4 linked regions of the Homo sapiens genome follow. The protein of the gene in region 3 purifies or fractionates together with the protein of the main gene of each other region. This does not show direct contact. Each region holds a gene or a part of one and is shown on either strand. Other genes may lie near its edges.

Region 1 (5,509 bases), on a different chromosome or scaffold from region 3:
GATACACAGAAAAGCTATTGATTTCTGTACGTTATCTTTTATTCAGCAATCTTGCTGAACTCATTGGTTTTCAATTATTTTGCCAACTGATGATCTTGCATTTTCTAGATAAACCTGCAAATAATGAGTTTTCCCCCAATACTTTCATCCCATTTCTTCTATCAGGCCTTGTTGCAGTGTCTCTTATAGAATATTCAATCATTGTGGTGGTAGTGAGGATTATTTTGTTCCATTCACTTAAAAGAGAATGTTTCTAATGTTTCATCATTAAGTATGGTTTCACCATTAAGTATGATAATAAAGGTTTCTGGGAGATACCCTTAATGGAATTGAGGACGTTTCCTTCCATTTCTTGTTTGCTTCTAAGATCTTTGTTTCTTGTAACAGAAAAACAAAACAAAACACAACAAAAAACCAAAGGGATGCTCCTTTCATCCTCAGAGGAGGAAAGAAGAGGGAAGCTGGGTCTAGACACACCCTGGATTTCTCTTTTCCAAGCCCAGCTGACAGCCACTTTTCTAGTACCCCTAACACCCACCAAATAAAAGGTGCTACATTTTGCTCATGTTCTTTCTTTTGTCTGGAACCCATTTCTTCCCTATGCTCCTCCACCCCAACTCCTATTTCTCCTAAGTATTAATATTTAGTCTGGAAGAGTCCCGTGAGATTATCTCCAATGTCTGATGCTATACCCCTGCATAGGGGGGTGGGGATATACTTTGAAAAAGCATATTCAAATAACGATTTGTTATTTTAAAGAAGTGTTTTCCTAATATGGTATATATAAAGTAACATTCCACAAAATTGTGGTTGCTGTATATTTAAGCTGCAGTACTTCTAAAAGGGTAGTCGGGGTTTTTCTCTCCCTAAAAGAGGCTGAGCTTCTTTCTAACTCAGGAACTCTATCAGTGAGCTTTTCCCTCTGCCTTGTAAGTTCTCTCCCAAACCCAATCTCCTACCTAATACCCACTCATCCTTCCAGATGCCAGCCAGCTTACCTTAAATGCTGTTTCTTCAGGAAGGCAAGCATAAGGTTCCCCTCTGTGCTGTCTCCTAGCCCCTTATACTCCTTAACAGACCGACTACCAATTGCAATCATAGGACCATATGTGTGTCCATTTTGTTTTTCAGTCTGTTTTCTCTACGAGCCTAAACTATGAGGACGAGGGATGTGCCTGTTTTATTTACCACTACAGTGCTTGGCATATTAAGGATCTTCAGTTGCCAAAAGGGAGCACATGTTAGAGAAGTCAGCACCTCTCTCATAATCTAAAACCCCCCAGTTAGCAAATGGGGCAAGTGGGGCCCAGAGGTGAGAAGAGATTTACTCAAGGTCTCGGAACCAATCTGATCCTGAGCCAGACTGCCTAGCTCTAAAGTCCAGTTCTTTGCTCTCAGGTTCTCCTTCAGGGCTCACCCAATCTAAGTACCCTGAGAAGTCTTTCCTTACCCCAGGCCTCTGTCCACCCTCACAGTCATTTCCACGCGTCGTCCTCGTCCCATCAGTCCCATCTGCCACAGCTGCCCACTCTGCTTCCCAGGGAACGGGTGACCGCGCGGGGAGAGAGCGGCATCCGGGCGCGAGGTGCGAGGCCCAGGTCTGCGGGCGGCCGGGCCAAGCCCCCGAGCCTCGGCGGTGCTGATTGGCCGGCCTGGCGGGGGGGACGGGCGGAGGGACGGCCGCCCGCGCGTCCGCTTCGTCTCCGCGGGGGCGCGCCCGCGGCACGCGGCCGGGCGGGGCCGGGCGTGAGTGACGGCCATGCGGACCAATGGGGCGGGCGCGCGCCGCCGCCGCCGCCCGCGCGGCCCCTGACGCGGGCCCGGGCGCCGCGCCGCTGCGGCTGCAGGCGGCGACGGCTACACCATGGGCCGGCTGCTGCGGGCCGCCCGGCTGCCGCCGCTGCTTTCGCCGCTGCTGCTTCTGCTGGTTGGGGGTGAGTGCGCTCCGGGCCCGAGCGCGGGAGGGCGGGCGGCGGCGTGGGCGCGGTGCTGGACAGCTCCCCGGGCCGCCAACAAAGGGGCCAGAGTGCGGCGCCGCCGGGAGCGCGCGTGTCCCGGCCGGGCCGCGGCGCCGCCCCGACACACGCGCACGAGGAGTGGGTGCGTGGGGGCCGCGGCGGGCGCCTGGCGTGCCGGGCGACCCCCGACAAAGGCGCGGCGGTGAAGCTGGGACACAGCACCGTGGCCCCCACGCCGCGGCTCTCAGGGGCAGGTGCGCAGGCTGCTGCCTCGCGGGCCGGGGGGGCGCGCACGTGTGGGTGTGCATGTGTGTGCGTGTGCTTGTGTGTGTGCGAGTGCATTGTGTGCCTGCGCACTCGGGGGAAGAGGCGTGTGTGACAGCCACGCGGGGAGGAGGCCGCATTGTGAAGGTCCCAGGGGCCGCCTGCGGAGTGTGGGGCGGGTACGCTGAGGCGCGGGTGGCTGTTTACGCGTGGCGTTGCCGGGAGGGAGTGTGAGTGTGTCACGGTGAATGGGTATTCTCTCCTGTTCTGGGCGACTCTATTAGGAGCTGACAAAAACGGGCGTACAGCCACGGAAGGCCCGTGACAGCACACGGCGGGAGGCTCCCACGCAGCTCACACACGAGGGAGGTGTGAGACTCAGATGTGTGGTTTCCATTCAGCAGCCACGCCGGGCGGCGGGCTGTGTGGGTGCGTGGCGGGCTGGGGGTGTGGCACAGGTGTGAAAGGGATGTGTCTGCCTGAGAGAGAAAGAGACGGGCCTCCTGATGGCTTCCAGCGCAGACGGGGATTTAGTGGAGGGGGTGTGTAGGGAGGTGGGCATGGGGTGTGACAGCCCATGAGGCAGGCGGCCACTATGGAAATGGCGGGGAGAAGGGCTGTCTGCAAAGGTGGGTCAAATAAGGTCATAGCTGAGCAGCTCCTGCACACACTGGCAGAGCAGAGGGAGTGTGTTACGGTGTATGTTAAGGTGTGACTGGTGCTGCTGGAGGAATACCCGGATGAGGAAGTGTGCATGTGTGCCTGTGCACACTCATCAGCCAGCTGTAACTTCACTTCTGATGCACACGTCAAAATAGCGTCCTAGTATGATGTGTGTATGTGCATGTAGGAGTGTGTATGTGCATGTAGGAGTGTGCACAGGACATTTCCCACGCAGCTGGCCCATGAAGACACAGGCACTTTGTGTCCAGATGTGTGTGAGTGAAAGAGAAACTAGTGAAGGGTCTCTATGGGAAGGGAGGAACAGTCTTTGCCTGAGGTGGGCCATGAACCTGGGACTCAGAGTGGCAGAATCCCAGGGTAAATGGCTGGGAGGGGAAAGTGGTCCCTCGCACATTCCTGTGCATGTCATGGGAAGGCTCAGTTCAGGGAGGGTACATTTTCTCCACAGTCAGTCTAGGGATGAAGAAAGGCCCTAGGTGGTGTGCACAGAAAAACATGTCCATCAGTGTTGGCTCAGACACTCACACAAACCCACCTGTATTCTTTCACGCCGTAAATCCTCTTTGGAAAAAGGCGACATTCAATAAATAAACATCAATTGATTGGTCTGCTATTTCTTTGTGTGACAGTCATAAACCAGAACTGGCCAGCAACGTCCTCATGGACCCAGGCCCAGCTGTAACTGCCCATGTGCTTATGTGACCAGCTGTGAGGACTGCAGGCAGCCTGCCTCCCGGCTCCTCTCTCCCGTGCATGCTCTTCATGACGCACTTCTTACCCCCTGCTTGGAGGGCATGTGCGTGTGTCTAGCAGTGTGTCTCTTTCTTACACACCTTTGTGTGGAAGCCCTTCAGGGACCTGTCAGCATTGTTTCTCAGGTGCTTACAGAGTGGAGGTAGCGTGACTGTGCTCAGCAGTTCCTGTTGTCGCTGACACTTAAGGGTGAGGAGCTGTGTGACAGATGCTGCAGGGCCCCTCCCATGTTGGTGTCTGCCAAGAGCTTAGGGAGACTGGACTTCAAAGACCCTGCTTAGGGGAGAGGTGGGGTGTAGCTGATGGTGGAAATCAGAAAGGAGTTTTGCACCGGGAGCAGATCACAGGGACTGATTTGAAAAGGTAAGATAAAACATGAGGATCGCTGGGGTCTTGTTTTTTTCACCTCCCCAAATGTCAGCCTGCTTCCTTTGCCTCCTTCTGTGTTTGTTTGGGTCAGATTTTCATTTCTTTGAGGCTGATCCCCTAATCCTTTTCATGTGCCATCTTTTTCTCTCTCCTCTGTTGGGTGTGATGATGTAACAGAAAATTATAGGTGCTAGAGGGAAAAAGGAAATCAATCACACGCAGAGTGTAATTCTGAAATTTTAAGTCAGGTGGGGTCTCAATTAAGGCAGATTAATTATTAAGTGCAAAACTAATTATACACAGAATGGCTATGTCTCAGCTACTATTTTGGTGTCATCTTATGGTGGGCAAGTTTGAAAATAAGTAACCTCTTGTAATTACTTAAATAAATACCCATTGCCAAGGCCTTTGAAAATATCAAGTTCTATGTAAAGACAAAACAGTCATTAGAGGGAAAAATAACTTTAAGAAAATGAAACTGTTTACTGGAAAAGGAATGAAAAACCGGGAAAATACCAGATTCCTTTTTCTTCAGTAGGGTTTTCAAAATCTTTGCCAATTCCTATTAGACCATTGGGAAGGGAAGACAAAGAAGGAAAGGGAGAGATGTTAGAGGAAGGTTATGGGTTCCTGGCTTGACAGGTGGGAGAGCTCAGAGAGGTGGGGGCTCACTGGAGCCATGGAAATGACAGGGAAGGGGCCTAGCAAACACACCAGACCACAGTACTGTGCACAGACAGCTGGACTGACTAGAAAGTGTTTTATCCCCCAGAGTGGGGAAGGAAACAGGCTCCTCTGGGCACAATGACCTGGAGAGGGCAGAGCAGTCTTCTTGAGTTCCAAGCCATTCCGAGGAGCCAGAGTAGGGTGTAGACGGCAGCAGCCTCCCCGCCTGCCATGCCACAGCCTCTCCCTGCCATGCCACAGTTCAGCTCCGAGAGAGAGTGCCAAGGTTTGAGAGACAACCCGTGTTTAATCCTTCAGTGGTTTTGTAGAGAGTGAATTTCAAAATTCTTAGGGAGAATCAGTTTACACTTTTCTAACAAGGCTGAAGTAATATCTTTCCCAGCATACCTGCTGGAGGTTGGAGCATGCAGATACAGATCTCCAGTTCATGGCCCTCTCAAAGGCAGGCTGCCCGGGTGCCCCGGGAACCTATACAATGTGTATTATTTAATTATTATAAACATTTTCCATCAGTTGACTTTTTTCTTCCTGGAATGCATGAATGAGTTTTTCCAGATTTGTTTCTTGTATTTTGGCTCCCTGCCAGCCCTGGGGATACTGCTTTTGCAAAGCAGTCTGCTACATCGGCTCATATCCCCTAAAGAACTTAGGGTTCCACTTCCCAAGAGTTTGTAATTTTCCTGAGGGCAAAGCCTGTCTCTTGTTCATCTGTCTCTTGTTGCACCTCCAGGAAGGGCCTAACACACTGTTTGGCACAGAATAGGAGCTCAGGAGTGACTGTATTTTTCTTTGTA
Region 2 (4,211 bases), on a different chromosome or scaffold from region 3:
ACGATGCAGGTCATGAAGTGGTTCCAGACGGCCCTCACCAGAGCCTGGAAGGGCATCGCCCACAAGTACGAGTTCGACCTGGCCTTTGGCCAGCTGGACAGCCCGGGGTCCCTGAAGATCAAGTTCCGTTCAGGGAAGTTCATGCCCTTCAACCTGATTCCTGTGATCCAGTGTGATGACTCGGACCTGTACTTTGTCTCCCACCTTCCCAGGGAGCCCTCTGAGGGCACCCCAGCCTCCAGCACAGACTGGCTCCTGTCCTTTGCTGTCTATGAGCGACACTTCCTCAGGACGACACTAAAGGCACTGCCCGAGGGCGCCTGCCACCTCAGCTGCCTGCAGATAGCATCCTTCCTGCTCTCCAAGCAGAGCCGCCTGACCGGTCCCAGCGGGCTCAGCAGCTACCACCTGAAGACGGCCCTACTGCACCTCCTACTCCTCCGGCAGGCCGCCGACTGGAAGGCGGGGCAGCTGGACGCTCGTCTGCACGAGTTGCTGTGCTTCCTGGAGAAGAGCTTGCTCCAGAAGAAGCTCCACCACTTCTTCATCGGCAACCGCAAGGTGCCTGAGGCCATGGGACTCCCTGAGGCCGTGCTCAGGGCCGAGCCCCTCAACCTCTTCCGGCCCTTCGTCCTGCAGCGAAGCCTTTACCGTAAGACACTGGACTCCTTCTATGAGATGCTCAAGAATGCCCCAGCGCTCATTAGCGAGTATTCCCTACATGTCCCCTCAGACCAGCCTACCCCAAAAAGCTGACGTCTTTTACAGAATGTGGGATCCTCGAGCTAAGATGAGGGCATCCCTCACGTTCACACCCCTGGTGGCATCTGCCAGCCCTGTTCTGGGGACAAGGCGGGCTTTCGTGGGAGCCGTGCTCAGCCTGCCAGGAAGCCAAGCCCTACAGTGCAGAGGAAACAGAATTTCAACGGGAAGCTGGTTTGCTTCATACCATTGGGATCTGCTGGTAAAGCTGTTATTTGGGTTTAGGGACTGATCCCTTGCAGTTTACTTCTGGATCACCATGAATGGCCAAGATGGTGGCAGAACACGCTGTGGACCCTGAGTTAGAGACAATGCAAATGTTGGATTGGGTGTAATTCTTTTTGAATCCCAGATCCAGTCTGTACTTGAATATGAGCAGAGGATCTACAAGAATGCTGACAGGGAACCGTGTTAAGACCCAGCACCCCTATTCCCAGGAGCTTCTGGCCTGACCATCTGCAGCCAAAGCACTAACAGGGACAGATATGGGAATGTCCACCTTTGATCCGCATCCTGCACAATAGTGGTCCCACCATGGCTGCCACTTTTTTATACTATTTGGAGAAAAGACCTTGTATAAATTCGAGGCCCAAATGACTAACGTCTCTGTCACACGGAAATGGGTACTTGGTGGCATAGAGAAACACAATTAGCCACTTTTTCAGCTACACTTCTCACTCAGCTGCACCCTACACTTCTCACTCAGGTGCACCCCCTTCTGCTGTCCTTTCCCCAACGTACTGGGTCCCGAGCGTGGTGGGTATTTGCCACACTGGGTGCCAGCTCAGCAGCCCCCCACCTCTCTTTATTCTCTCCAAAGCTGGTCTTTCTGACTATCATTGTGGTAGGGGGAGGACAGATGCTAAAGGTGGAAGCTGACCTGGAGAAAGAGACACACGGGGTGACTGTGGCAAAGGACAGCTGGAAAAGAAACTCTATCACTTCTTCATTGGCAACCACAAGGCACCTGAGGCCATGGCACTCCCAGAGGCTGTGCGCAGAGCCAAGCCTCTCAACCTCTTCTGGCCCTGCGTCCTGCAGCGAAGTCTCTGCTGTAAGACAGTAGACTCCTTCGATGAGGTGCTCAAAAATGCTACCCGGGGTGGTGGTGTCTGGCTTGCAGTCTGGCCCAGTTCAGAGAAAGTTGCAGAGATCAGGGGCCAAGGATGTCATAGCCCCAGGTTGTCCTCAGGGTCCCAATCCTAGGGCAGGGTGTGCATGGAAGCAAGAACTATGGAAACCTAGCTCCAGTCTGCAGGCTCTGAGCCCCTAGTTCCTCACTCCAGCGGGGCTCCCTCACTGCACAGAACCCACCCCTTCTGTGTGGGCACTGCTGACCACACAGATGACCCAGACCCAAAGAGCCTGGCAGAAGCTCTGTGGTTGGAGCTGGGCTCCGTCTCCAGGTCTGGTTCAGGGGGATCAGGAAGGCTCTTTTCCACCTGTGGCTTCACTGGCCCTTTGAGATTTCCTATCTCACCGTTACTTCAGTTACCCTTGCAGGGGGCCAGGGAGTCAAGAATATACCGTGTTCCTCCAGGGTTTAAGCCGGCCATGCCTTCCCGAGAGCATAACCAACTTGACAGGGGTGCCCAGTTACCCCACAAACTGAAGGAAGGAGATCCTTCCCCCATCCCCAGGAGTGCTCTCAACCAGCCTCAGAAAGCTTGAGAAGATGGACCCTTTGCCCACCAGGGTTAATTCCTGGTGGGGCAGCTCGGCTGTGATCAGGGCAACCAAACCTATAGGAAGCCTTCCAGTGTGAGCTGGAATTAGACTGAACATGTGCTTGGGCCTGCCTCTCCCTAGACGCAGTTGCGGGGCACTCCAGGGAATGAACCAGCTCAAGTGTGTCCCTAACAGCAGCCTGGAGCTACCCCCAATCCCTCACAGCCTGACCCTCCTCATTCCATCAGATGCATTTGTAGAATCGGGGCAAATTTCCTTATTTATTTATGGCCCATGCCTTTCCCCCTCTTCATCCTGATCCCGTTTTGCTTTGAAGAGACCCCAGTAACCAAAAAACAGCCTCCAGAAGCCAAAACCATGCCTGGATCTCCCATAGCTTCTCCTTTGCTTCCAGGAGAAAGTTCACTGAAAAAAAAATATCTTCTGGCTTCTTGTGTGTACAGAGACAACAGAACTCGGTGGGGAAACGGGAATCTTTTCTGCACCAAAGCTGCTTCTAAAGCAGAAAGCAGTGGGGCTCTTGGTGTTTCATGCTGCCTTATTTATATTAAAGGAAGAATTAAATCTTGCAAGGAGTAGAAATGGTCACTGTTTGTTTTTAACTTCAGGAAATCTGTGAGGCTCCCAGGGCAGAGTTGGGGACAGGGGGGTGGATTTCCTATTGACAAAGCAGAAGCTTTCACTCCCTTTTTATTCTTACACTTTCAGGAGACTTTAAAAAATAACAAAACAGAACATTTCTACCCTGTCTTTGAGGCAACTTGTGTGCTGCCCGCAGGGCTCCAGAAAGGGCCTTTGAAAGCTGGCTGTAGGGTGGATTCCAGCCTAAGACCTTATTTCACAGAGCTAATGTCAGCGAGAAATATAGGAGCTGGAACTAACAGGAAGCTTTTGGGTTTTAAAGAAAGAGATTGTATTTTAAATAGAGGATTTTGAGTCCTCTAGGGGACTTTGGCCTTTCCACTAAGGACAACCCTGCCCTCTTTCCCCAGAGTCTCTTTCCCAAGGATGCTTGACTTTCCCCAGCAACTGCTCACTTGCTTTGCAAAATAACAAGGGTGAAATGAATAGAGTTGGCCCCTAGGCCAAGAGGCTGGTTATGTTGGGGAAGGGCCTTATATCCTCAAAAGCTCTAGCCCCTCTGCATGCCTGGCTGAAGCACAGCCCCCGTTGAGAACCTGGGGGTGGAGCTCTGGTTCATCATCAAGGGTGTCATCCGAATCACCCAGACAACCTGGTCCATTGCCCCGACCCCGCCTTGAACCTACATGGTGCTCAGAATCCAGTCTGGAGTGGTCAGGCTAGGCTCGATTTTTAAAGATTTCCCCCAAGTGACTGATGGTACCCCTAGCTGAGGAAGCCCTCTCACTTTCTTTCTTAATGGAAAGTTAAAGAAAACCCAAGTGGACTACTTTCCCTACAGATCTATTGGAAGATAGATAGACCTGGGAAAAGCCAATGAGCCTGCTTGGAATCTGTGGTCTAAGTGGCATCAGCTACACCACAAGCTTCTCATGAGGGCACCCACATTCACGCTAGTGCCGTAAGCCTCAGAGAGAGGGTGGGAAGGCATAAGATGGTGAGCCCTTCTCCCAAGCAGGTCATGAATAGTCCACAAGCATTTGTCAGGAGCCTAACGTGCATGAGACATTGTGGAAGATGGGAAAATGAATAGGACCAAGCCTGTTCCCTAGGAGAGGCAGCAGAAGGTGGCCTTCCAAGTACTGAGCTATTCCAAGTGTGACCCTGCACTACACATA
Region 3 (5,078 bases):
GATTACAGGCATGAGCCACCGCTCCTGGCCACAAAATCTTTTTAAAAGAAATTCTTGGCCAGGTGCGGGCTCATGCTTGTAATCCTAGCACTTTGGGAGGCTGAGACAGGAGGATCCCTTGAGGCCAGGAGTTCAAGACCAGCCTGGGCAACACAATGAGACTTCACCTCTACCAAAAAAAAAAAAAAAAAAAAAAAAGAAAAGAAAGAAAGAAAAGAAAAGAAAAAAAGAAAAGAAAAAAGGCCCGGTGAGGTGGCTCATGCCTGTAATCCTAGCACTTTGGGAGGCTGAGGCGGGTGGATCACTTGAGGTCAGGAGTTTGAGAACAGCCTGACCAACTTGGTGAAACTCTGTCTCTACTGAAAATACAAAATTAACCAGGTGTAGTGGCACACACCTATAATCCCAGCTACTTGGGAGGCTGAGGCAGGAGAATTGCTTCAATCTGGGAGGCGGAGATTGCAGTGAGCTGAGATGGCACCATTCTACTACAGCCTGGGCAACAAGAGCGAAACTTCATCTCAAAAAAAAAAAAAAAAAAAAAAAAACCAACCAAACCAAACCAAACAAAAAAAATTAGCTAGGGCACAGTGGCATGCACCTGTGGTCCCTGCTACTTGGGAAGCTGAGGTGGGAGAATCCGTTGAGCCTGGGAGGTCAAGGCTGCAGTGAGCCAAGATTGTGCCACTGCACTCCAGCCTGGGTGACAGAGTGAGACCCTGCCTTAAAAAAAAGAAAAAAAATTCTTTTCTTAAAAAAAAAAAATAGAGATAGGGTCTTACTCTGTTGCTTAGGCTGGTCTTGAACTCCTGGTTTCAAGCAACCATCCCACCTCAGCCTCCAGAGTACCTGGGATTATAGGCACCCACCACCATGCCAGGCAGAATTCTCCTTTTTTTTGTTTCCCCTCTCCCCATCAAATTTGGATGAGCCAACAAAGAGGTTCGGGTGAGCCTCTTTCTCCTACTTGACCTGAGGACTGTGGGGAAGCGATCCCAGGAGAATGAGCTGGTCTGAGCATGGGTAGCCTGGAGAAAATCCACAGGGATCCTCCTCTGACACAGACTGGGCATGGGCGGTGTCTGGTGACAGTGATTTCCAGGCATTTCTGCAGGCTCTGTTCCTGGAATAACTTTCCATTCTGTGCAGTGGGCACTTCACCGGACTGGGCTAGAGAAAGTTGAGGTCCTCACTTTCTGGCATCTTCAGTCCAGTTCCTGAGAGGAGGAGCTGGGTGCTTGCATTCTGGCCTCCCTAGGACCTCCCCACTTGTGCCCCTCCTTGGGGCCCCCCAGAAACCTGAGGATAGAGTGCATTGCCTCAGTAAGCATGGAGGGGCGGGCAGGTTTTGGAGATTTCTCAGGGGAATCTTTAAGATCCAGGACTGGCTCCTGAAGATTCCTGATCTAATGAATAAGATCAGGCAGAAACAATTCCATATTTTTATGGGAATTTACAAGAGTTTTTTGTTTTGTTTTGTTTTGTTTTTTGAAATGGAGTCTCACTCTGTCACCCAGGCTGAAGTGCAGTGGCACGATCTCAGCTTGCTGCAACCTCCACCTCCTGGGTTCAAGAGATTCTCCTGCCTCAGCCACCCAAGTAGCTGGGATTACAGGCGTGCACCTCCACACCTGGCTAATTTTTGTATTTTTAGTAGAGACGGGGTTTCACCATGTTGGTCAGGCTGGCCTCGAACTTCTGACCTCAAGTGATCCGCCTGCCTCGGCCTCCCAAATTGCTGGGATTACAGGTGTGAGCCACTGCACCTGAGTTTTGGCTGCTCTGTCTTAGGGGAGTAGCCCAGTGACTGCACCCCATCCCCAACCTGCCTATGACCGTGTTGCCAAGTCATTTGGGAGGGGGAAATGACCCACATTTATCCTGCACAAAACTCCTCCTGGGAAGTTTTTGTCTTAATCTTTTTTAGTTTTTGTTTGTTTGTTTGTTTTTTTGAGACAGAGTCTTGCCCCGTCACCCAGGCTGGAGTGCAGTGGCACGATCTCGACTCACTGCAACCTCCGCCTCCCGGGTTCAAGCGATTCTCCTGCCTCAACTTCCTGAGTAGCTGGGATTACAGACATGTGCCAGCACGCCTGGCTAATTTTTGTATTTTTAGTGAAGATGGGGTTTCACCATTTGGTCAGGCTGCTCTCGAACTCCTGACCTCAAGTGATCCACCCACCTCAGCCCCAAAGTGCTGGGATTATAGGCGTGAGCCACTGCACCCAGCTGGTATTATTAGCTCCATTTTATATATGAGAAATCTGAGGCCCAAGAGGTTAAGGGACATGTCTAAGATCACACAATAGGAAGTGGGGGAGACAAAAAAAGAAAATCAGCTTCGGCCACATGTGGTGGCTCACACCTGTAATCCCAGCACTTTGGGAGGTTGAAGTGGATGGATCACTTGAGCCCAGGGGTTCGATACCAGCATGGGCAACATAGTGAAACCCCATCTCTACAAAAAAATACAAAAATTAGCTAGGTGTGGTGGTGTGTGCCTATAGTCTCAGCTACTTGGGAGGCTAAGGTGGGAGGATCACCTGAGCCCAAGAAATTGAGGCAGCAGTGAGCTGAGATTGCACCACTGCACTCCAGCCTGGGCAGCAGAGTGAGACCCTGTCTCAAACAAAAAGAAAAAACAGCTTTATTGAGATATAATTCACTCACTATACAATGTACCCATTAAAAGTATGCAATTCAATGGTTTTTAGTATATTCACAGTCGGACAACCAGCATTACAATCAATTTTAGAACATTTTCATCACTTCTAAGGGAAACCTTACACCATTTAGCTTTCACTCCCTAGCCTTCCCTCCCCCTAGCCCTAAGTAACCACTCGTTTACTTTCTGTATCTATAGATTTCCCTGTTCTGGACATTTCATATGAATGAGTCATATAACATTTGTCCTTTTGTGTCTGCCTTCTTTCACTTAGCATAGTGTTTTCAAAATTAATCCATGTTGTAGCGTATATCAGAACTTAATTCCTTTATATGGTGAAATAATATTCCATTATATGGCATGTCAGATTTTAATTCTGCTCTTTTCACCTTACTCTCCTGTTTCCCAGCGATGTTAAAGTACCTCTTGCATACATTCGGCATTAAATGAATGTTTGCTCACTGAGTGACAGAAACCTCAAATTATCCAGGCTGCTTGGGGTACGGGAAGTCTTGCTTTTCTCCCTCTTCTCCCTGTCTTTCCCTGTCTTTTTTTTTTTTTTTTTTTTTTTTTTTTGAGATGGAGTCTTGCTCAGTCACCCAGGCTGGAGTGTAGTGGTGTGATCTTGGCTCACTGCAACCTTCGCCTCCCGGGTTCAAGCGATTCTCCTGCCTCAGCCTCCTGAGTAGCTGGGATTACAGACACCCACCATCACGCCCAGCTAATTTTTGTAATTTTCTAGAGACGGGGTTTCTCCATGTTGGCCAGGCTGGTCTCAAATTCCTGACCTCAGGTGATCTTCCTGCCTCGGCCTCCCAGAGTGCTGAGATTACAGGTGTGAGCCACCGCTCCCGGCCTTTCCCTGTCTTCTTCTTCTCCATTTCCTCTCCAAGAAGGACAGGGAAAGGGGTGGGCAGAGATGATGCAGGGTTGGAAAACATGGATGGATTAGGTTCGGATTCCAGTGCTTCTGTGCCAACGTCTCAGATAATAACGAGGTGGCCCCACAGAAACTAGAAACACCATTCCGGGCTCTGCGGCGCCTGTGGTAAATGGGGCTGTCACTGGGCTTCAACCTCCCACATCTCCCTCCCCTGGCCTGGTGGTCCTGGGTGGGCCAGGAAGAGGGGGACACACTTCCTGCTACACTTGGAGGAGGCTCTCAGAGGGAGGAGCCAAGTCCAGGAATGCTGTCTCCCTCACTGACTCTGTCTTTTCAGAGCAAGGTATCAGTGAAAGAGATTTGTAGTTCTTTCTCTTTTTTTTTTTTTGAGATGGAGTTTCACTCTGTCGTCCAGGCTGGAGTGCAGTGGCACCATGTCGGCTCACTGCAACCTCTGTCTCCAGGGTTCAAGCAATTCTCCTGCCTCAGCCTCCCAAGTAGCTGGGATTACAGGTGCCCACCATCATACCTGGCTAATTTTTATATTTTTAGTAGAGACAGGGTTTCACCATGTTGGCCAGGCTGGTCTCGAACTCCTGACCTCAGGTGATCCACCCACCTTGGCCTCCCAAAGTGCTGGGATTACAGGCATGAGCCACTGTGCCAGGCCTGTAGTTCTCAACTGATGCTCTTTTATCTTATTTTATTGCATTTCCGACTTCTATTATAGAAAAAACTCAAGCTTTCACAAAATTAGAGAGTTCATTATAATTAATTCTCATGTAGCCATCACCTAGCCAGGTGTGGTGGCAACACACCTGTAACTCCAGCTACTTGGAGGCTGAGGTGGGAGGATCACTTGAGCACAAGGTCTCTAAAAAAAAAAGGAAAAAACAGGCTGGGCACAGTGGCTCATGCCTGTAATCCCAGCACTTTGGGAAGCTGAGGCGGGTGGATCACCTGAGGTCAGGAGTTCAAGACCAGCCTGGCCAACATGGTGAAACCCCGTCCCTATCACCTAGCCATCACCTAGGAACAAATATCAATATTTTGCCTGTTTCATCTATACTACCCTCCCCCAAACACATTTTCCCCTTCTGAATATCCTAAAGCAAATCCTGGACATACTTTCCTTTTACCTGTAAATACTTTAATAGGCATCTCCAACAGATAAAGAGGCTTTAGTTGTTTTTTGCCCTTTTGTTTCTGCTGAACATAAGCACAAGACCAGTCATAGTCAACAGATTTAATGGCAATATCAATCAATACCCAGTCTATGTTCAGTTTTCCCTGATAGTCTCGGAATGCTTTTTACAGTTGGTCAATTCAGGATCCAAACCAAGTCCATGCTTTGCATTTGGTTGTTTGGTTTCCTGTCTGTTTTACTAGAAAACTGTCCCCTTTTTCATACCATATGTGTGAGAGAAACTGGGCCACGTGTCCTGCAGAATCCCCCATAGTTTGGAGTTGGGCAATTGCAGCCAAATGGTGTTGTCTAACTTGTTCTTCTGTCCCCTGTATTTCCTCATA
Region 4 (5,078 bases), on a different chromosome or scaffold from region 3:
CTATTGACCAGTGCCTGGGACCCCGCCTCACTCTCAGCACAGCCTGGCCCACCAGTGCAGGATGTGGATTCCAAGGGACTGATCAAGACTCAGCTCTGCTACAAAGCTCTGCTTTTCCCTCCAACTCATGGACTGTTGTAGGGGCTGAGACTCCCCCGTGGGACTCCTCCTGCCCACGCACCCCTGTCCCAGCCTTAGCTTTGCTGCAGACCATTCTAGATACTGACTGCAGATCCTGCCTCATAAACAGGCAGAAATGTCACTGGGAGAGACAGTGAGGTCAACTAGATATTGGATAGAAAGGGCAGCTAGAGGCTACACAGCAAGGACAGTTAGAGCTGGGACAGAGATCAGCAAGGTGGCATGTGAGCCGGCCAGTGAGATTGGACAGGGAGGTTGGCTGGAGTAAGGCCTTAAGGCCTTTAGGCCAGTGAGAGGAAGACAATTGTCAGTATGGAGAAAGTAGACTCAGTGGAGACCCATCCAGGCCTGCAGTGACCCCTCTGCTTTGGAAGGGAAGCTCTGGCCACTCTGCCCTGCCACTAGAGCTGATGCTGCATGAAGCCACATAGACCCCAGGACCCTGCTTAGTGGCTGGAGAACTTCAGTGTTCATCGTGACTGTGCTTTCCAGCAGATGGGCTGGATGTGATTCTCTGAGGACACCTTCAACTCACGCATTTTTTTTTCTTTTTTCTTTTTTTTGAGACAGAGCTTTGTTGTTGTTGCCCAGGCTGGAGTGCAATGGCGTGATCTTGGCTCACTGCAACCTCTGCCTCCTGGGTTCAAGTGATTCTCCTGCCTCAGCCTCCCATGTAGCTGGGATTACAGGTGCCTGCCACCACACCCGGCTAATTTTTTTGTATTTTTGGTAGAGACGGGGTTTCACCACATTGGCCAGGCTGTTCTCAAACTCCTGACCTCAGGTGATCTAGGTGATCCACCCATCTCAGCCTCCCAAAGTGCTGGGATTACAGGTGTGAGCCACCATGCCCAGCCAACTCATGCATATTCTGTAGGCCAACTCCCCTAAGCCTAGGTCTGTCTGTGGTGGCAGGGAGGGTTTAGAGAGAAATGGAGGTTGGGCCTTCCCCCATCCAGTAGGCTGGTAGGGGATTTGGGTGCATGTGTCCCCGATCTCCTTGCCACAGACCAGATATGGAAGGCTATGACCTGTGGAACCAACTTTTCTAGGTCATTCTGAAGTGTCCTGTCTCCTCTGTCTCCTGCTTCTGCTCCCTGGACAGTTCCATGACCTCTCACAGAGACATGCCTGGCACCTTGGCTTCATGAAGATACTGTGTGGCCCAAACGAATACCAGTTTCCTTTAGCCCCAGAGGCTGACAAGACATATCTCCCTTGGATTTCAGGAGATCTGTGGAGCATCCACCAACCCACCTGTTGGTTCAAAATCAACTCCAAAGTGGTTTTGTCCTAGATGTCCTCTCAGGCTCAACGGCCACATGTGTGCTTGAGATCTTGCTGTGCTATTTCTCCTGGTAGTGGGAGTCTGAGTGGCATCCATGCTCCACAGGGCACAAGGTCTGTGCTGTGGTTAATAGGCAGCTCCTGGTGACCATGGGGTGTCAGAGAAGCAGTGTTCTGGCTGCTGAAAGTCAGCCAAAAAAAAAAAAAAAGGATAGAAGCCTGACCTTGGCATGGAGCCTTGGTTGAAGAAGGAGCCCCAGCCCTGGAAGCTAGTGATCCCGCACATGGGGCTCTGGGCTGCCCTTATCCCCACCTCCCACTCGAGGGCACTTGTGGCAGCAGGAGTGTGGGCACCAGGCAGAGGACACACGTGCCCTCCATTATTGAAAGTCCTCTCTGTGCACTGCAGGGTCTTCTTGTGTACCAGCACTTTTTTCTTCCCATTTCTTTCTCCATGTTTACCATCAACACTGTGAGAATAACTGAAGTTTCCTTATCCAAAAAAAGGGTGCTACTCCAGATTCCGCCACTACTGTTTTCGAAAAGCACAAAACCAACAGAGCCTCAGAGGGGGCTGACCCTCTTTCTGGATCCCACCTCCATCCCCCCGAACTTACGTAGTGCTTTCCTCAGCAGCCACCGAGGCCTCCAGTTCCGTCTCCAAAGATGATGGGTTCCTTCCAGTGGGTGCAAAGTGAGAGCCCCAGTGATTGGTGTTCATAGTGGGTCAGTGTGAACAACGCCCAATGGCCTGCCTGGGCCAGCTGGGGCCTCGTTTTGCTTTGGTCTGAAAGACATTTTTGTTTTCTGGTGAGAACAGCCCCAGCCTGGCCAGGAGCCGGCCAGCGGCAGGAATACAAACCCTTTCATGTGACAGACCCAAGTGGAGTGATGCCCTCCTGCCAGCAGCAGGCCCTCCCCTGCCGCTCCTGGGAGGCGGCCATTTGCATATTTCCCATTCATCCTGGCCTTGAAAAGGAGGCCTGAGTTCCCAGTGCTCCTGCCCGCTGAGGGCTGGGCCGCTCCAGTCTAATGTTAACTCTGTGGACACTGTAGGCTCTCACAGGCCAACAGCAGAACTTGACCGCTTGCTGCCGGAGGGAGAGCAGCTTAAGGCTGCAGCTGCTGTGCCGCCTGACCTCCAGAGGGGGGATTCAGGAGGTGGCAGATTCCCGTTGACCAGCACAGCCTTTTGCTAAACTGGAGGAAATTCAGATTTGTTTCTTCTTGAGGCATTCAGAAGAGGAATTTTGTCAGACTATGGGGATGCCAGAATATTCAGCTATTTACCAAATTTGCCAGAAAATGTGCCCTTAACCAAGGGCAAAACTCTTTTTGTCTTGCTCACTTTCTAGTCTACAAAAAAATTCAGTGACTCTGGAATGGTAGGTGAAGGAGCCATGCCGGATCCTGGCTGCAGCAGCAATCCCTTTGCCAAGGATGTAGGAGCACAGCTTGCCTGGGGCACTTTTGCATCCCCAGGGCTGAGTGCCATTAGCTTGTGGGCTGTGACTCTGAAGGCATGAGGCAGATATACAGTACCCATCACCATCTTTTTCCTTTCTCCCATAGCTAAGTGCCATCCTGCCAGCCTCAGCTTCCTGCCCCAGTCCTCAGTGCAGACAGGCCTCTGCCTCCTTCCCGCCACTGTGTGAGGGCTCCTGCCAGGGGCCCCAACATCTTACAGGCTCTTCCTGTGACTTACCAACCCACTTCTGTCCCTCTTCGATAGCCCTGTTCTCTACCCTTTCCCACCCAGCTCGGATCCTCTCCTTGTTCTCCCTCCCTGGCTAAGGATGTCTCAGGTTCTGTCTTTTGTGCATTTCTCCCCTAGCACGTGTCCCCAGGAGACCAGCAGGGCTCCTAAGTGAACAAGCAGGCAAGCAAATCCCTCTGTTGCTCCCCCCACCTCAGTGACCCCCAACCATATATTGGCAGGACCCTCCCTACTTCAAGGAGCTTCCCTCTAGCTGGAGGAGGTCGCATCCCATCCTGCTTGTACCCCAGCCACCTGCAGTTGAGCTCTGAGTGCATGGCCTCGCCATGAGCAGCCCATATGCCCTTTACTGGTTCAAGCTTAGTTTGCAGTGTGTCCTAAGTTTGAGCCAGTGGCAGAAATGAATCATTGCTCCTGAGGCCGGGACACCAGCAGTCCTAACGTGGACATGGCCGGAAAGGCAAAGGATCGTGTTACAGCCACAGGATTTGGCTTCCTGCACAGGAGGGCCTGGCCAGGGAGTGTCCCTGTGCCTGTGAGGTGATGGTGACCCTGGTCAGTATTCCTAGGGTCCTGCCTGCTGTCCCAGGGCTTGGCGTGGAAGGATCTGAACTCGTCCACACCATCAGTCCTGGTTATCATACCCTGTAAATATTTCCAAAGGGACTACTGCTGTTTTTTTAGCCCCTGCTGTCCCTCTTTGCTCTGAGAACTTTGTCCTGCCTAATTCATGGTGAGGGCAACGTTTATCTCAGAGCGTGTGAAAGACACTGTGTATCTGTTTGCTCCTCTGTTCTCAAGGCTATTCATATTTTAAAGTTCCTGAAAGCATTGTTTGTGCCTGGCTTCCTGGTGCTAGCATCAGGAATGTGGACCCACATTCCCTGAGCAGGGCTTAGGGTGAGTGAGATTTTTGAGAGGTACTGTCATGAGGATGGGGAGGCCAGCGGGCAGTGGAGGCTGCTAAAGGGAGGCATGCTCACAGTGAGCTTGGGCTAGTTGCAACAGGTGGCTCTGTAAAGTACTCAGTCACAGCCAGCCTTAGCTGGGCCTTTCTACATTCAAGGGGCTTAATTGAACCATCAGAGCTATGATCAGGCTCCTTGGGGAAGCTTGGCAGGTGAGCCACCATGTAACCTGGCAACCCCGTATCGTATCCTGGGCCTCTATCTCATGGGGGATGTACAGTGGGTCCCACCTGGCAATTCCCAAGTCAGGGAGGCTCTTTGCTCCATTTCTGCCCTGGTCTTATGTGGTTCTGTGAATCTAATTAAAACCCAAGAGGAAAATGGAGAGCAAACCCTTCTCTCACAGCAGAGAGAAGCTTGAATCCCTGTGTGGAGAGGGCAGGTGTTGGGCAAGTGTGCGCTGCTGTGTTTGCACCTCTGCAGGTCAGGGTTGTACATGTGTGATGGTGAAGGCTGTGCATTTCTCAACCTGGCAACTGGGCTGCACACTGCTTGGGGTGAAACTACTCCCTCAGCTCTATGCCTCTGGCACTCTGTGGGATTTCCCACAGACCACTGGATTTCCTGCCCCAGAGGCTGCCTTGAGAAGCATTAAAGGAAGCTTTCATATTAAAAGCATCTCTGAAGATATTTGGAGAAAAGTAAGGGTCCTGCCTAGAAGAAAGGTGAAGTGACTTTGTGGGCTGATCGGGGGTGCTCAGATATTCGTTCATTTTAATCGGGGTGGGTTGGGGGAAGCTAGGGCCAAGTTCCAGATGAGGGTCGCTGAGGCAGGACGCTCTTCTCATGGCTCACCCAGATGGTAGGGTGAGTAGTGGAAGCTGTTATCTGCTCCAGGGAAGGTGTTGCAAGCCTGTGGGCTCTAGACTTGCCAGGCAATTGGGCAAACAGCTTTCAAGAGGGAGCTCAGAGCACTGGGTCCTGTCCTGGGACATTCTTGCAGCAAGGGAGCAGGGTTAAATTTG

What was found. The genes of interacting proteins can lie anywhere in the genome.
Region 1: the proteins of PRPH2 (region 3) and PODXL2 purify together in Homo sapiens (affinity purification with mass spectrometry; one large-scale study listed by BioGRID and IntAct). This does not show direct contact.
Region 2: the proteins of PRPH2 (region 3) and ITPRIP purify together in Homo sapiens (affinity purification with mass spectrometry; one large-scale study listed by BioGRID and IntAct). This does not show direct contact.
Region 4: the proteins of PRPH2 (region 3) and ACSL6 purify together in Homo sapiens (affinity purification with mass spectrometry; one large-scale study listed by BioGRID and IntAct). This does not show direct contact.

Annotation. Positions count from the first base shown.
Region 1 is NC_000003.12:127,627,356-127,632,864, forward strand, and holds the start of PODXL2 (podocalyxin-like protein 2 precursor), read left to right. Parts: upstream 1-1,829; 5' UTR 1,830-1,864; coding exon 1,865-1,934; intron 1,935-5,509. UniProt on the Homo sapiens protein: Acts as a ligand for vascular selectins. Mediates rapid rolling of leukocytes over vascular surfaces through high affinity divalent cation-dependent interactions with E-, P- and L-selectins.
Region 2 is NC_000010.11:104,310,953-104,315,163, reverse strand, and holds part of ITPRIP (inositol 1,4,5-trisphosphate receptor-interacting protein precursor), read left to right. Parts: coding exon 1-756; 3' UTR 757-4,211. UniProt on the Homo sapiens protein: Enhances Ca(2+)-mediated inhibition of inositol 1,4,5-triphosphate receptor (ITPR) Ca(2+) release.
Region 3 is NC_000006.12:42,712,083-42,717,160, reverse strand, and holds part of PRPH2 (peripherin-2), read left to right. Parts: intron 1-5,078.
Region 4 is NC_000005.10:132,000,779-132,005,856, reverse strand, and holds part of ACSL6 (long-chain-fatty-acid--CoA ligase 6), read left to right. Parts: intron 1-1,193; exon of another isoform or gene 1,194-1,523; coding exon of another isoform or gene 1,524-1,542; intron 1,543-2,045; exon of another isoform or gene 2,046-2,284; intron 2,285-5,078. UniProt on the Homo sapiens protein: Catalyzes the conversion of long-chain fatty acids to their active form acyl-CoA for both synthesis of cellular lipids, and degradation via beta-oxidation.